2 linked regions of the Homo sapiens genome follow. The protein of the gene in region 2 binds, or shares a complex with, the protein of the main gene of each other region. Each region holds a gene or a part of one and is shown on either strand. Other genes may lie near its edges. The genes, in order: NUP98 and NUP160.

Region 1 (3,831 bases), about 44 Mb from region 2:
GAACAATATGAAGTTTTCTAACTCATGAGTATGGTCTGTCTTCCATTTATCTGTGTCTGGTGTACTTTCTTTCAACCATGTTTTGCAGTTTTGTATAAACAAGTCATTTACCTCCCTGGTTAAGTTTATTTGTGTATATTTTATTCTTTTTGATGCTACTATATATATGAAATGTTTTCTTAATTTTTGTTGTTAGTGTATAGCAGTGCAACTGATTTTTCCATGTTGATTCTGTATCCTGTAACTTTGTTGAATTTGTTTATAACTAGTAAGTTTTTTTGTGTGGCATCTTTAGGGATTTCTACACAAGATGTCATCAAAGAACAGAGATAATTTTACTACTTTTCAAAACTGTATTAACTTTTATTTTTCTTGCCTAATTGCTCTGACCAGGACTTGCAGTAGTATATTTGGGAAAAGTGGCAAAAGCAGGCATCCTTGTGTTGCCTTGTCTCACAGGAAAAGCCTTCTGTATTTGAGTGCCTTTATTATGAAAGAGTGTTGGATTTTGGTAAATACTTTTTCTGTATTATGATGATGATGATGATGTGGTATATTCCTTTATCTTGTTAAAGTGGTATGTTTCACTGACTTTTGTATGTTAAGCCATCCATGCATTCCAGAATAAATCTTTTGGCCATGATGTGTAATCCTTTCAATACGCTGTTAAATTCTGCTTCCTAGGGCTCTGTTGATGACTTTTTCATCAATATACTCATCAAGTGGTCTGTAGTTTTCTTTCCTTGCAGTGTCTTTGGTTACTGAATAAGGTAACGCTTGCCTCATAGAATGAGTGTGAAAGTATTCCCTTCTCTTCAATTTTTTGGAAGAGTCTGAGTAGGACTGGTGTTATTTCTTTAAACGCTTAGTAGAATTCACCAATGAGGCCATCTGATTCTAGGTTTTTCTTTTTTGACAAGTTTGTGATTACTGAGTCAATCTCTTTACTAATTATTGGCCCGGCACAGTGGCTCATGCTTGTAATCCCAGCACTTTGGGAGGGCGAAGTGGGCAGATCACCTGAGGTCAGGAGTTCAAGACCAGCCTGGTCAACATGGCAAAACCCTGTCTCTACTAAAAATACAAAAATTAGCTGAGCATGGTGGCGGGCACCTATAATCCCAGCTACTCTGGAGGCTGAGGCAGGAGAATCGCTTGAACCCAGGGGGCAGAGGTTGCAGTAAGCTGAGACTATACCACTGCACTCCAGCTTGGGCAAAGGAGTGAAACTCTGTCTCAAAAGAAGAAAGAAAGAAAAGAAAGAAAGAAGAGAAAGGGAAAAGAAAAGAAGCGGAAGGGGAAAGGAAAGGAAAGGATCGATTGATCTGCTCAGATTTTCTATTTCTTCCTGATTCAGGGTTGGTAGGTTATGAAGATAAATAATTTTCACTACAGCCCTTTCACTTGACTAAGATATTAGAAGCTAGGATCTCACACTAAAATAGAGAGTTAAGTATAGCCACAGCAGAAACAGGAATAAAGCAAAATACTATTAAAAAGAGTTTTTGAAATTAGCAGTTGGACCCAATAAAATCAGGGAGGCTGGGCAGCGTGGCTCACACCTGTAATCCCAGCACTTTGGGAGGCTGAGGTGGGAGGATCACTTGAAATCAGGAGCTCAAGACCAGCCTGGCCAACATGGTGAAACTCTGTCTCTACTAAAAATACAAAAATTAGCCAGGCATGGTGGCGGGCGCCTACAATCCCAGCTACTTGGGAGGCTGAGGCAGGAGAATCGCTTGAACCCGGGAGTCGGAGGTTGCAGTGAACTGACATCATTCCACTGCGCTCCAGCCTGGGCAACAAGAGCAAAACTCCATCTCAAAAAAAAAAAATAATAATAGTAAAATGAAATGAAATGAAATAAAATAGAATAGAATCGAATCCAAGGAATGTAAAAAAATGAATTAAAAAATAAAATCAGGGAAAAGGAGTTCAAAATCACAGTATAGCATTTCTTTGCCATTTATACTTTTAAATCAAAGTAGAGACAATAAATGTACTCTATAGTAAGGAAAGCAAGCTACAGAAGCATACATCTAAACACATTTATGTTTACAGAAAAAAAAATTGTGATTTAGCTGATAATTTTCTGTATGTACATAAACTCTTACCTATTTAGCCCTTCACCCACAGGTGGTTTTTGGTTATCATCTAAGTAGACAACTACTTCTTTCCTCCGGATATGCACAATATCATCCAAATTTAGATTTGTCAAATTCACATCTCCTTCAAAATAGATTGAACCATAACCTATAAATCAGAGCAAATAGTTAAAAATTCATTCTGTATGAAGGCAAATACCTACTTTACAACTATAGTGATTAAACAATCACAAGGAGAAAGCAGTTTTAAGTATTAGTATTTTAAATAATTCAGCAATTCCTAGACTGGTAAGAATGGGGACTTAGGGAGAGTAACTTCAATTACACTGTTATCTGATTTAAAATCTGCATTTTTCTTTTCTTTTCTTTTCTTTTTTTTTTTGGCAAGGTCTTGTTCTGTTGACCAGACTGAAGTGCAGTGGTCCTGTCTCACTGCAGCCTGAACCTCCTAAACTGAAACAATCCTCCCACCTCACCCTCCCAAGTAGCTGAGACTACAAGCACATATCATCAGGCCTGGCTCATTTTCTTTACTTTTGGTAAAGGTGAGGTCTCACTATGTTGCCCAGGCTGGTCTAGAACTCCTGAGCTCAAGTGATCCTCTCACCTCAGCCTCCCAAAGCGCTAGAATTACAGGTGTGAGTCACTGCGACAGGCCTAACATCTGCATTTTTATAAAACTCCCATTAGCCTCAAAACAACCTTCTTAAATCTCTTCCCATTTATCTATAATGACGCTATATAAACAAACCTTCGCACTTGGCCTGGCATATGGGTTAAAATGCCTGAGCTCTTTTTAATACAATATAGCACAGTGGCATTTCCCACAAGAAAATTATCAGTAATAATAACATGAAGTTCATGCTAAGTGTTATACATCTCTTGCCTATTATTCAATTTTCTCAGAAGTTCTTGGTATTTCCAGTATTTTCTTTAATTACAGAAAATTAAAATGACCCAAATAGTTACTAGCACCAAACAGGTATACCTAAGCCCAAAGAATATTATATGGTTCTGTGCTTCTCAGGAGGCTGAGGCAGGAGAAATGCTTGACCCCAGGAGTTGAGATCTGCCAGGCAATGTAGCAAGACCCCATCTCAACAGAAAAAATAAAATAAATAAAAATAAAAAAATTTACATGGTTCCAGTCTTTCTTGTTTTGTTACTTATCAATCAAAGTATTTAAGATTCAGGCCAAGGTGGGCCCAAATGTAGGAAAATGAAGATTCAGCTATCAAAAGCTTCCCCTAATTACAAAAATAAGGTGCAACTCTCTGGCTTAATCACTAAGTGCTAAACTCACACTTACCTTTCCGACCAATAGTGAAATCAGAGACAATGCACTCTCCTTTTTCATTGGTAATTTTAGCAAGGTCATCCATAGATGGAATAGTATAGTAACCAACCTTAGTGAGAATAATACCTGTGACAAAAAAAAAAAAAAAAACAGAAAAAAAAATAACCTGAAATAATCAGCAACTAAATCATCATATAAAGAGAAAATATATCAGAATGAAGAATTTTCCAAACTACTTTTCTACCAAACATGATTCCTAGGAGAAGGGGTGTGTGAGTGTGTGTGTGTGTGTGTGTGTGTGTGTGTGTGAAAAGCTTCATGGTCAAATAGGTTTGAAGAACATACATATGATACATCAAAGAGTCTAAAACTTACAGTAAATAGCCTATTAAACTCTGCTTAACCTCGTGTTTTTCCAGATTTAACCAC
Region 2 (2,697 bases):
CTGGCTAGTTTTGGTATATTTAGTAGAGATGGAATTTCACCATGTTGGCAAAGCTGATCTCGAACTCCTGACCTCTCAGGTAATCTGCCCGTCTCAGCCTTCCAAAGTGCTGGGATTATAGGCGTGAGCCACTGCGCCCGGCCTATCATTGCTGTATTTCAAGTACCTGTTTACCTTGTAGGGTCTGCCCTACCAAATTAAAAGCTTTAAAGGATGGACCGACTGCTTGCCATTTGTCTCTGTATAATTAACACTTACACAGTTCCTCATTATGTTTTCTTGATCCTGTTACTTAGATCCTCTGCCTTATCTATAAAGGGACTGGGCAGTTTGTTAAGGGCCAAAAATAGGCTTTTGTCTTCCCTTTCTAATCCCGGAGAACTGAAGATCAAGCTGTAAGGTGTAACTGCTAGTGCAGGGGCTTACACAAGACGTCTCATGAAAGGGCTGACTTACTGCGATGTTGTGACTGTTGGCACTGTTCTCTCCCAGAGCTTGGAGAAGCTGATCAATAGAGGAGTATGGAAGCCACACCATTGGGGCTGTTGCGGACAGTGGAAACTAAAAGGAAAATGTTTATTTGAAAACAGTCTGCAAAGTGTACCATTTCTTCTGGGTAGTTGCTTTCATAGGACTCTGTAGAATAAAATACCCTTTTTTTTTTTTTTTTTGAGATGGTCTTGTTCTGTCGCCCAGGCTGAGTGCAGTGGCACAATCTCAGCTCACTGCAACCTCCGCCTCCTGGGCTCAAGCAATTCTTGTGCCTCAGCCTCTTGAGTAGCTGGACTACAGATGTGCACCACCATGCCTAGCTAATTTTTTTATGTTTATTTTTAGTAGAGATGGGGTTTCACCATGTTGGACAGGCTGGTCTCAAACTCCTGGCCTCAAGTGATCCACCTGCCTTGGCCTCCGAAAGTGAGCCACTGTGCCCGGCAAAATAAAATGCATTTTTTCCCCCAACCACAAGAAACTGTGTGTATACATGTGCATGCACACAATGGGAACCCTCTTTTCTCCAACTGGGAAACTTGTCATTTTTTTCGGTTAAATATATTTAAAAATTCATGTCGGCTGGGCCTGTAATTCCAACGTTTTGGGAGGCCGAGGTGGGCGGATCACAAGGTCAGGAGTTCGAGACCAGCCTGGCCAATATGGTGAAACCCCGTCTCTACTAAAAATACAAAAATTAGCCAGGTGTGGTGGCACAGATGTAGTCCCAGCTGCTCGGGAGGCTGAGGCTGAAGAATTGCTTGAACCCGGGAGGCGGAGGTTACAGTGAGCCGAGATCATGCCACTGCACTCAAGCCTGGGCGACAGAGCGAGACTCCGTCTTGGAAAAAATAAAAAAATAAAAATAAAAAATAATTTCATGTCAACTTTCTTTTTTTTTTCAGACAGGGTCTCACTCTGTCACTCAGGCTGGAGTGTAGTGGCATGATCATAGCTCACTGTACCCTCAACCTCCAGGGCTCATGTGATCCTCCCACCTCAGCTTCCCACATAGCTGGGACTATAGGCACGCACCACCATGACCAGCTAATTTTTTTCTATTTTTTGTAGATAAAGGTTCTCACTATGTTGCCAAGGCTGGTCTTAACCTCTGGGTTTAAACGATCCTCACACCTTGACCTCCGAAAGTGCTAGGATTACAGGTGTGAGCTATTGCACCTGGCTGATTTCATGAGGGTTGAAGCTGTAGTTAACTACACCTATTTAGACCTGGCTCTTCTATTATATTTGCCATCTGTATGAGCCTGTGATAACCTCTGAGCCTGTTCCCTCATGGGTTAAAAAATAGAAAATTAAAACATTCCTTCATAAGGCTGCTATAAGGATTAAATAAAAAAATGCTTGTAGAGACTTAACACAGTCCCGGCACACACACAATACCATTTTGTTTATCTCTCTCCACTGAATCCTAACTAATGCCATATTATTTTGATAGAGAAAGATGAAATTCCTATTTTATAAACAGGAGACTAGAGATTCCTAGAGTGTCAATATTTAGTTGTATAACTACAGATAGTAAAGGTTAAATACACTAACATATAGTTCAATTTACTCTCAGATTCTCACCTTACATAGCATGATAATAAAAAGAAATGCCTAGGCCGGGCATGGTGGCTCACATGGGTAATCCCAGCACTTTGGGAGGCCGAGGTGGGTGGATCACTTGAGGTTAGGAGTTCCGAGACCAGCCTGGCCAACATGGTGAAGCCCCATCTCTACCAAAAATATTAAAAAATTAGCTGGATGTGGTGGCAGGTGCCTGTAATCCCAGCTACTCAGGAGGCTGAGGCAGGAGAATCACTTGAACCCGGGAGGCGGAGGCTGCAGTGAGGGAGTAAGTGGAGGCTGCATCACTGCACTCCAGCTTGGGCAACAGAGCAAAACTCAGTTAAAAAAAAAAAAAAATATATATATATATATATATATATATATATATATATATATATATATATATATATGCGCCTATACCGATGTTCCTCAACTTATGGTGGGTTTGTTTTCCAATAAACCCACTATCAGTTGAAAATATCATAGGTTGAAAATACATATAATACATCTAACCTAATGAACATCACGGCTTAGCCTAGCCTACTTAACCATGCTCAGGACACTTAACGTTAACCTATAAAGTTGGGCAAAATCATCTAACAGAAAGCCTACTTTATAATACACTGTTGAATATCT

The links.
Region 1: NUP160 (region 2) and NUP98 share a complex: the UniProt entries of both Homo sapiens proteins name them as parts of the nuclear pore complex.

Annotation. Positions count from the first base shown.
Region 1 is NC_000011.10:3,717,298-3,721,128, forward strand, and holds part of NUP98 (nuclear pore complex protein Nup98-Nup96 isoform 1 precursor), read right to left. Parts: intron 3,529-3,831; coding exon 3,415-3,528; intron 2,254-3,414; coding exon 2,115-2,253; intron 1-2,114. UniProt on the Homo sapiens protein: Plays a role in the nuclear pore complex (NPC) assembly and/or maintenance. NUP98 and NUP96 are involved in the bidirectional transport across the NPC. May anchor NUP153 and TPR to the NPC.
Region 2 is NC_000011.10:47,779,887-47,782,583, forward strand, and holds part of NUP160 (nuclear pore complex protein Nup160), read right to left. Parts: intron 562-2,697; coding exon 457-561; intron 1-456. UniProt on the Homo sapiens protein: Functions as a component of the nuclear pore complex (NPC). Involved in poly(A)+ RNA transport.